Regions from separate parts of the Homo sapiens genome. Here region 1 is linked to region 2. A link means that fine-mapping ties the variant in region 2 to the expression of a gene that starts in the linked region. Tissue or cell type: cultured neurons. Region 2 holds a variant in brackets; the other region holds the start of a gene. All regions are shown on one strand. Distances are between the middles of the regions.

Region 1 (5,229 bases), 23 kb after region 2:
CTTGGCCAATACAGTCTTTTAAAAAGTTTTAGTTAATTGGCTGGGTGCAGTGGCTCACGCCTGCAATCCCAGCACTTTGGGAGGCCAAGGCGGGCGGATCATGAGGTCAGGAGATCGAGACCCTCTTGGCTAACGCGGTGAAACCCCATCTGTACTAAAAATACAAAAAATTAGCTGGACGTGGTGGCGGGCGCCTGTAGTCCCAGCTACCTGGGAGGCTGAGGAAGGAGAATGGCGTGAACCCGGAAGGCAGAGCTTGCAGTGAGCCGAGATTGCACCACTGCAATCTCGACAATCCACTGCAATCCAGCCTGGGCGACAGAGCGAGACTCCGTCTCAGAAAAAAAAAAAAAAAAAGTTGTAGTTAATTACCAGCATTTAAAAAAACCAGAGATTTAACATAATCTGAATTTCTGGCCTCTTAATAAAAATCAGGGTCTGGTGTGGTGGCTCACGCCTATAATCCCAGCACTTTGGGAGGCCAAGGTGGGCAGATCACGAGGTTAGAAGTTCGAGACCAGTCTGGCCAACATGGTGAAACCCTGTCTCTACTAAAAATACACAAATTAGCCAGACGTGGTGGTGGGCGCCTGTAATTCCAGCTGCTTGGGAGGCAGGAGAATTGCTTGAACCAGGGAGGCGGAGGTTGCGGTGAGCTGAGATCGCACCACTGCACTCTAGCCTGGGTGACAGAGCAGGACTCAGTCTCGATAAAAAACAAACAAACAAAAAACAGAACATCTGGCAACTCTGGGTGGGTCTCCATTCACATATGGCAAAAATCAGTTGGAGCTGAGCAGTGACTGTCACCTTAGGCAGGTGTGCATACCTCAGTCTGTCACAAGCCCCATCCCTCCTTTCTATTATACCCTGCCAACCTCACTTAGTACATGACTACCCGGCCACGTCGGTATTAAAGTTTGTGATCCTTCAGCTAGTCTTATGCCCTCTTAGTTACTGAGGTTAGAGTCACTCCCTCTTAGTTACTGAGATCATGTACTAACGCTCATGCAGTAAGTGGAAGATGCTGGGTAAGAACCTTCCCGATCTTGGAAATAGTACCATTACTCCACAGTGGCTCAAGCTAAACACCTAGGAGATTTTCTTCTTTCATCCCTTTACGTCAACCCCTGTCATAGTCTATTTTGTGCCAATATAACAGAATATCACAGACTGGGTAATTTATAAGGAACAACAATTTATTTAGCTCATGGCTCTGGAGGCTGGGAAGTCCAAGATTGAGGGGCTGCATCTGGTAAGGGCCTTCATGCTGAGTCACCCCATGGCACAAGGCAGAACAAGAGAGCAGCAGAGGGGTGGGGAGAGGGCCACTCCTGGCATTAATGGAATCACCTCTTAAAGGTCCCACCTCTCAACACTGTTGCATTGGGGATTAAGTTTCCAAGATATGAACTTTGGGGAACATATTTAAACCATAGCATCCCCTAAATCCAGCCTAATCCATCATCAAGCCTTCCTGTGCTACTTTTGACACACATTGCAGGAGGTCCACCTTTTCCGTATCTTGCTGTCACCACCCTGGTCTTCATCACCATAATCTCTTGCCTGAATTGTTCCCTCCAGATTGATATGACAAAGCCCTGACCCTCACGGTGGCCTACAAGGTTCTGGGTGATGGTGATTCCACACTAGTCTACCTCTCTGGCTGTAACCCACTCTCCCCTTGCTCACCTCACTCAGCCACCCTGGGGGCCAGTTCCAGCTTCAGAACCATGCATCGGCCGACCCCTCTGTCAGCAATGCTCTTGCTTCAGCCCTGGAATCGTTTTTGTCCTCCAAGTATCCAATATCACAAGCGGCCCGGAGACCACCCTAGGTATAGCAGTCCTAGACCCCTTTCTTTTTCTTTTCTTTTTTTTGGAGACGGCATCTAGCTCTGTTGCCCAGGCTGGAGTGCAGTGGCTCTAACTCGGCTTACTGTAACTTCCACCTCCCGGGTCCAAGCAATTCTGCCTCAGCCTCCCGAGTAGCTAGGACTACAGGTGAGGGCCACCATGCCCAGCTAATTTTTGTATTTTTAGTAGAGACGGGGTTTTATCATCTTGGCCAGGCTGGTCTTGAACTCCCGACCTCGTGATTCACCTGCCTCGGCCTCCCAAAGTGCTGGGATTACAGGCGTGAGCCACAGGCACCCAGCCGACATTCTCTTGTTTTTTTCGTTTGTTGTATATAACCTACCCCCACCTCCACCCCATGCAAAGTCCACGAGGACGATAGACTTTGTCTTGTTCCCTGTTGCATCCTGGCCCTAGGGCCTAGCCCACAACCTGGGACATTTCCTGACAAGGGGCCCTGGTTTCTCTGAGGTGCCACCTGAGGTCCGGGAGGTCAGCTGACTTTCCCAAAGGTGGATTCCAAGGACACTGCATTCTTCGCACTCCCCGAGGGGCGTCTAGACACTCCTGGGACCCAGAATTATTAGCTAACTGGGCTCCTGAGTCCGGTGAGAGCTCAGAGTCTAGAAGCAACTTTCCCTGCCTGGAGAGGTGAACCCAGCAAGGCGTTGGGGAGAGGCGTGGGCGAGGGAGTGGGCGCGGGTGGGCGGGGCCGTCCGGGGGCCTCGTTGCCCGAGCCAATGGGGCGCCGCGGCGCGGGGAGGCCGGGCCGCCGGGCGGGGGCGCTCGCGCGCGTTGAGGGGCAGAGGCTGAGCTCCCGGGACCCGGAGCGGATCGACTGGCGGGCGCCGCGCCGAGGCACCACCGGGCGCCGAGTTCCTGGCGGCTCGCACGGTAAGCGGCGCGGCGCCGCAAAGTAGACTTTGTGGGGTTTCTGACAGCCGGGAGACCCCACCTCGAGCGGGGGCTGCTGGTGCGTTCTCGCGTCGGGCTGCGTCCCCTGGAGCTCCGGCTCTGTGTCCGCGGGATGCGGGCGCACGGAGGGGCAGGGAGGGAGGCAAGGAGCCGCGCACCACGGTGTCTCCCCAGGCTGCCGCTGCCGGGGCCCTGGGCCGGTCCCTGGGACAGACAGATCGGCGTGCGGGGGCCGTCTGCCGGGCCCGGGAGCCGGGGGCGCGCAAGACTGTGGATCCTAAGACTGCCTCCACCCAGCGCCCGGCCCGGGGAAGAGCTTGCGGGAAACCAGGAACCGCAGCGGCCGGACCTCTGCTCTGCGCCGGCTCCTAGGACCTGCCTTAGGTCCCCAGACCCCTCATGACCTGTTGCCTTGGGTTTGGGAGGTCAGGTTTGTCATGCCATTTCCGATTTCCAGTCATCCTGGGGGCAGGATGAAATTTCAGAGTGGTTTCCTGGCCAAGCTAGAAGCAGAGAATAGCTATGGATACAGCACCTCGTGTATCTATCCAGCACTTACTTGGCTTTTTCTGAGTGCCAGGAACTGTGCCAAGCCCTAGCAGCATGAAGAATGGCCTTTGGGGAGCTTCTGGGGCTAAGAGGGACAGTAGGAGGAGCAATTGCAGTGCAGGGTAGTGCGGAAGACTCGAGATGGAGAAGAGGACGGTGAGGAAGCCAGGAAGGTTTCAGAGAGGAGGTGAGCATTGACTGGAAGTCGGAGGTTTTGCCAGGCTGAAAAGTGTGTTGGGACTGTGAGTTGATAGGGAGCAGGAATTCCAGGTGGGTTTTCTTGTGTAAAGGTAAAGAAACTGAAAAGGTCCGGTGTCCTGACCTAGCACATCAGATAATTCTACAGCAGATAATGGAGTAGGACCGGGTCTTGCTGTAGGTAGGAAATGAGCTCTCGACATGGCAGGAAGCTAAAACCTGCACAGACCTTAAAGTGCAGCCTTAGAATATTTAGAATTTTATCCTGGAATGAAGGAGGGCCGTGGAAGAATTCTGATCAGTGATCAGGTCCCTCTGGCAGCTCTGGGGACAATGGATGGAGGCCGGAGCATCAGAAAGCTGGTAAGTTGTAGTTGTTTTCTGGTCCTTGGCTGCAAATACTCTTCCCTGCTTAAGGGAGCCCCCTCTGCCCGGGAGCCCTGCTCCCTGGCTTCTGGACATGGATTCAGGCAAAGAGATGCTGCCCGTGTAATGCTTGCTTCTGCAGCCTGCACATCATTTTGATATTGTTTCTGGAGCCTGTGACCTCAGTCTTGTCATCAGGCCTCTGAAGGGTGCCTCTGCTCTTCTTTTCTCATCTTCAAGCCCTCTGTGTGCCCTTCCCCTCTGCCTGGGCTCCCCTTTCTGTTTCACAGAGATCCAGTCTCAGCCATTGGAGGCAAGGCTGTGTGTAGATTGGTGTAGTAGAAAGAACAAGGGCTCGCTGGGAAATCAGACCAGAAAGTCACTTTAGCCATAGGCTTTGGGGACATTAGCAACCTTCATGAACCTTCTTTTTCTGATTTAAAAGGAAATCATTGTACTCACCTGTCATGGTTTGGGTTCCCTGGAAAAAGACTTGGCGCTTCTGAGATTTTTGTGCAGATAAGGGAAGCAGAACTGGGCAGAGGGAGATGTTGATCTATGGTGCAGTGCAAGAGAGGTCTCAATCCCTCCCATGAGACAAAGAGACGAGGCCTTTGAAGCTTAATGTTGATCAGCCAGTGGGTGCAGGCTGGTCCTAGGGAGGGAGCTAGGATGTCCCTTCAGCAGGACAGTTCCTGACTAGGGACTCACCTGGGAGCTGGGGTAACCAACACTCTGGCAGCTGGACATGGGGAAGTCATGAGTGTCTTGGTCTTGGAGGGGGAGTTGAGCATTTCCCCACGGTATCCACTACACTACCTCACAAATGAAGTAGTGCTTTGTACTGTGCCTGGTGCATAGTAGATATCTTAAAAGTATTCATTTCTCTCACCTTTAAGTTTCATGACTGCACCTGAAAATGAGTTTTGGAATTCGAGTTGAGTCAGCTTTTGTGAGGAGCTTTTAATAATAATAGCCACGAAGACTACTGCTTCCCTTTTTTGAGTGTCTATTATGTATATACATTCTCTTCTAGTTGTCCAATAATACTCCAACTTAGGTACTTTTATTCTCATTTTATAGTAAACCCAGTCTCTTCCAAAACCCAACCAAGTTGATGTTCTTTTGCCACAAAATAATAATTATAATAATAACAATCACTCACAACTCTATGATTTGTTACACTTTCCAAAGTGCTTTCATTGGTGGATTGATTGATTAATCATTCATTCATCCACTAATTAATCAATCAATGTGTATTGAGTGTCTCTTAAGGAGTAGGCGCTATCCTAGGTGATGGGGAGAAAGCTCAGTCTATTAGAGGAGATAGACATTAAATGCTTGG
Region 2 (5,229 bases):
GCCATCCTCCCACCTTGGTCTCCCAAAGTGTTGAGATTAAAGGCATGAGCCACTGTGCCTGACCTTGCATTATATTTCTATCAGACAGCAATGAGGGTATAGACATCAATAAGACCTAGTTCCTTCCTTCAAGCAGAAAACTAAACACAGAAACAGCCAATCATAAAACATTATGGAAGTCAAGGGATGGAATTCAAAGATGCTGAAGAAGTATCAGAGAGTGTACCTAACTCAGCTTGGGGAAACCAAGGAGGACTTCTTTGAGGAGGCGATAACTGAATTTGATCTTAAAAGAGGAGTAGAGATTAAATAAATAAGAAAAAATAAACATGACTTTCCAATGGAATGGTCATTTTCAACAATGGGCTATAGGAGTGAAGTAGCAAACTCATGTGGGAGACAAAAAGCAGTTCTGGTTTACTGGGGTGTAAAGTGTAAGGAAGATATGGCTGGAGATCAGGCTGAAGAGGCAAATTAGATCATGAGGGGCCTGGTAGATTGTGCTAAGATTGGGACTTATTCTATAGGTGACAGCTAAGGGTTTTAAGTAGAGCACTCAGGCAGTAAACCCTGTAAACTCTTGCTGGGAGGTTTTCCTTTCCCAATCTGTTTCACTGTGGAAGTGGGAGTACTGATCATTTTCATTGCTTGATTGAACTGAGTCAGTGGCAGGGACCTTTCTCAAGAGATGACCTCTTACATTGTGTGGCAGCTGGTTTCGTGTCACTAGAGACAGTCCTCCCTCATTCAACACACTTCGAACTCACAAAGCTGATTAATTTAGCCTTAAATCTCAGCATTTATTTATTCCACTGATCACTATCTGATATATTATATATTTTTTCATGGTTCAGACTTTCCCCTACTGAAATGTAAGCTGAGTGAAACAGAGACTCTGTCAGTTCATGACTATATCCTTAGAGACTTTCATATAGCAAGTGCTCAGTGAGTACTTTTGAACAAATAATCACATTAGATAAGATAGTGACACCTACTGACAATGTGTAGTATTGTAATCTAGCTCTACTGCACTCTGTAATTACTTGGATATGACACCTAAGGAAGACAAATTCCATCAGCAGGGAGTCCCTATCTCTGAATGATGCTGACTTAACTGGCCCAAAATTACAACAAGTGAAAAGTCAAGGAAGGCAAATGCATACCTAGAAAATTATGGCAGCCTAGCATAGTGAAAGAACAGAGACTTGAGACTCACATTGACATGGGTTTTCCTCCCCACCTCAGGTATTTACTTGCTGTGTGACACTGGGCAAAGTAATTCACATCTCTAAGCCTTAATTTCCCCATTCATAAGAAAAGGCAATAAAACCAACAGTGTTTTGATATTAGAAATGATATATTTAGAGTGTCTACTGTAAATGGTAGTTTATTATTTTTATTTTTATTTTTATTTTGAGACGGAGTCTTCACTGTGTCACCCAGGCTGGAGTGCAGTGGCATGATCTCAGCTCACTGCAAGCTCCGCCTCCCGGGTTCACACCATTCTCCTGCCTCAGCCTCCCAAGTAGCTGGGACTACAGGTGCCCGCCACCACGCCCGGCTAATTTTTTGTATTTTTAGTAGAGATGGGGTTTCACCGTGTTAGCCAGGATGGTCTCGATCTCCTGACCTCATGATCCACCCACCTCAGCCTCCCAAGGTAGTTTATTAAGTATTAGTTTCTGTATAAGGCTTTATGGAGGGGAGGGAACTTGTCTGTTGCTAACTATCTCTCCTTCATTGTGGTCCGGAAGGAGCTTTGAAATCATTCCCATGCATTTGGTTTTTCAGAGAAGGTATTTCTCTGCTCATTTCATTGCAGGCCATTTCCTGGCCTTGCACAGTGAGTGAATAAGTAAATGCGTAGATTGCTCAGACTTCTGAGATCAGAAACCTTTCTCAGGAGGTTTTCCAGGCACAAGAAAATCAATAGCAGATGTCAAGCAGCTTCAAAGCTGATTACCTTGAAATGAATGGTCACACCTCCTTTCCAGCCAGGTCTCCATCTTTCTCTTGTTCAAGGGTCAGCTGCAATACATTAGATCCCTAATTAAGAAAGAAGATGATCAGCAAATGACTCCTCTGAGCAGAATACTAAACAACCGGAAGGGTCTTGGAACAGATCTGCTGGCATCTGCACAGAGGAAGAACATGTAGATA[G/T]AATTGAAGCTGCCTTAATTGGTAGTGGTGTAGGGATTGTATTTCACTGCTCTGCTGGGAGTAATAAAGGCCGACATTATAATCAGTGCGGCAGTAGAGAAATGGAAACTTAGAATCTGAGCTGCTCTGCTATTCAACTAGAGCCAGTGAAAAGGAAATGGATACTCTTGGCTGGTTGAAAATGTAGAGCCTCCACCAAATAATTAAAATACCCTTGGCAGGGTAAAACTAGACCCTACACCTAATAATAATAATAATAACAACGACAATAACAACAATATTATCTATGGAGTGAAGCTGACCTCGATTTAAATTCTTTGTCTATTACCCATTTAGCCTAAAGCATATTGCTTAGCCTCCCTGAATCTCCCTGAATCTTATCATTTATAAAATGGGATCATGGAAAATGTTAAATAATTAATCTATCATAACTGGCAGAATTCCCAGCACAGAGAAAGCTTGCAGACAATGAAAATCTCTTTCTCCCCTCCCTTTCCCTATGTGCTATTCAAAGTGTCTTTATATTTGTCAGATGTTCCCAGTCTAGGTTCTGGATAGACATGAGGGTAGAAGGCTACAAAACCTCTGGTATTTTATGCAAAATGTCATATGAATGTGGTCTTTTCTGATGAGCATGTCCATAGTTTTCAGCAGATTCTCAAAAAGGGTTAATCTCTCAAAAAGTTTGAAAAAATCCCTGGTATATTTTATCTTTCTTTTATGACTTGGCCTCTGCTTCCCCCTGCACCCGTATTGCCTACTGTTTTCTTCCTCATCACTGTATTCCAGCTACTCTGACTCCCTTTATTCCTCAAAGATGCCATGCTCATTCCTGCCTCAGTCTTTTACTTATCATTCTTTCTCCTCCCTACGTCTTCACATGCAAAACTTAGCTCACAGGTTACTTCTGGAGATGGTCCTTCCCTGACATCCTAATCCAAAGAATCTTCTCCAGTTACTTTCTATTGTATCAGTATTAATCTGTTCAGGCAGCTATAGATTGCTGCATAGACTGGGTGATTTAAACAATAGACATTTATTTCTCACAGTTCTGGAGGCTGGGAAGTCCAAGATCAAGGTGCCAGCTAATTCAGTTCCTGGTTAACGTTCTCTTCCTGACTAGTAGATGGCCACTTTCTCATTATGCTGTCACATGGCAAAGAGAGAGTGATTACCTTCAAAAGGCCCTATGTCCACATACCTCACACTGGGGAATAGGGATCCAACATATGAATTCTGAGGCAAAACAGTTCAGTCCAGAACTGTGTGCCAATTACTACAAGAGTGGATGGATGGATGGATGGATGGATGGATGGATGGATGGATGGAAGACAGATGGATGAACGGATGAGCAGATGGATAGATGGATGGATGGATGACTTTTGAGTGCATCCCTGTAAGGCATAGAAGAAAAGTTTCTTTTCCCATTTTACAGATGGGTAAACTGAACCGAGGTTCAGTGCCTCAGAAAAGGCTTATGGACAGCAGTTAAGAGTATTCTCTGGAGCTAACTGCCTGAATTCAAATCCCAGCTTTACCACTTATAAATTATGTAACTTTGGGCAAGTTACTTAATCTCTCTGTTCTTCAGTGTCCTCATCTGCAAAATGCTGCTAATAATTATATATGATATTAGTCATTAGAGCTGTTCACCAGTATTCTGATTCTTCCACTTCTAGGCACATAAGCCATGTGTTCCATGCCCACGTGAAGTTAGGTCTGGATATCAAATGTGAGCTGAAGTGTCTGTGTCATCCCCTTGTGGAAACTTTTAAGAGCTAATGTGAGATTTGCCCTTTCCTGTTCTCTGACATAAAATCTGAAACATTCTGTATGAAGGTCATTTTCTTAGCCTGCATCCTGGGGTGAAGACAGAGTGGAACGGAATTCCCATGAACCTACAACGAACAAAGAGCACGAGTGAGAAACAAACTACTGAGATCTGGTGGTTGTTTGTTATCACAGCATAACCTAGCTAAGCTTGACAAATACACATATATACCAACTTACTGAGCTCTTGTAAGAATTAAATGAGGTGATGCAAGTAACATGATTCAAAAACATCTGGCACATAGTAGACACTACATAAGTGCTTGCAATAATTATTACTCAGTGAATGTCGAAGCTAAGACTAAAACTCATGTTTCCTGGGGCTATAATTATAAAACAAATTTTACTGCACTTTTTAATTCTTAAATCTACAAAGGAACATTTGAGAGGAAGAGGGGAGGATCCACAGAAGCCTTCCCTCCACATGCCTGCCACCTCTGGCTCTAAGAAACCCAGCACCTGGAGGCAATGAGGACAAGTTCCTGAGCACATGCAAGAGGACAGTCCCCCTGATAGCTCTCTTGTGCTCTGCCAGGCCAATGATGCCATTGTCGGAGAAAAGAGCCATGATCAATTTTCATGGGTTTTGCCCTCAACGGGTCATTCCTGTTCATCTTTTCCTTCCTTCTTCTTTTCTTGGGGGCTCAGAGTAAAATTATGTCTTAAGGGGAAAGTTCCAAGCAGCACTACTTGCTAGGTTCTTCTAAGCAGAATGGACAACTCATTTATTGCCAACCAACTTTGTAAGGAAACTAGAGTTTCCTTAAACGAACTGGGTTGGTACCTCTGAAAAGCTTAGAGACACTTGAAAACAAATAATAGAGTGTGATCCAGTCTAGTCTATCTTATCAGTAACATAGCAGTGAGGAGTTAATAGGCATCAAAAATAATAAAAGTTGTAGGTAATAAGAATGATAACTAGATGGCCAGGTGTGGTGGCTCACGCCTGCAATCCCAGAACTTTGGGAGGCCAAGACGGGCAGGTCATGAGGTCAGGAGATCGAGACCATGCTGGCTAACACAGTGAAACCCCATCTCTACTGAAAATACAAAAAATTATCCGGGCGTGGTGGCGGGCGCCTGTAGTCCCAGCTAGTTGGGAGGCTGAAGCAGGAGAATGGCGTGAACCCAGGAGGCGGAGCTTGCAGTGAGCCGAGATCACGCCACTGTCCTCCAGCCTGGGTGACAGAGTGAGACTCTGTCTAAAAAAAAAAAAAAAAAAAAAAAAAGAATGATAAC

Direction of the effects. Positions count from the first base shown, and alleles are read on the strand shown. Sizes are in standard deviations (SD) of each study's normalised expression.
As copies of G replace T in region 2, the expression in cultured neurons of the gene that starts at base 2,661 in region 1 goes down (moderate effect, 0.50 SD a copy in Aygun 2021).

The links. PIP is the estimated chance that this variant, and not a neighbour inherited with it, causes the effect.
Region 1: it holds the start of SYN3, and the variant in region 2 is fine-mapped to the expression of SYN3 in cultured neurons (Aygun 2021, PIP 0.95).

What each region holds. Positions count from the first base shown.
Region 1 is chr22:33,055,813-33,061,041 of GRCh38, reverse strand. It overlaps SYN3 (synapsin III), which reads left to right and starts at 2,661. Exons shown (of 14, transcript NM_003490.4): 1 at 2,661-2,750.
Region 2 is chr22:33,079,212-33,084,440 of GRCh38, reverse strand. It overlaps a transcript of LARGE1 not described here. Among named protein-coding and RNA genes, the nearest start is that of SYN3, 23 kb to the right of the region's middle. The variant G/T (reference allele first, on the strand shown) is at 2,161.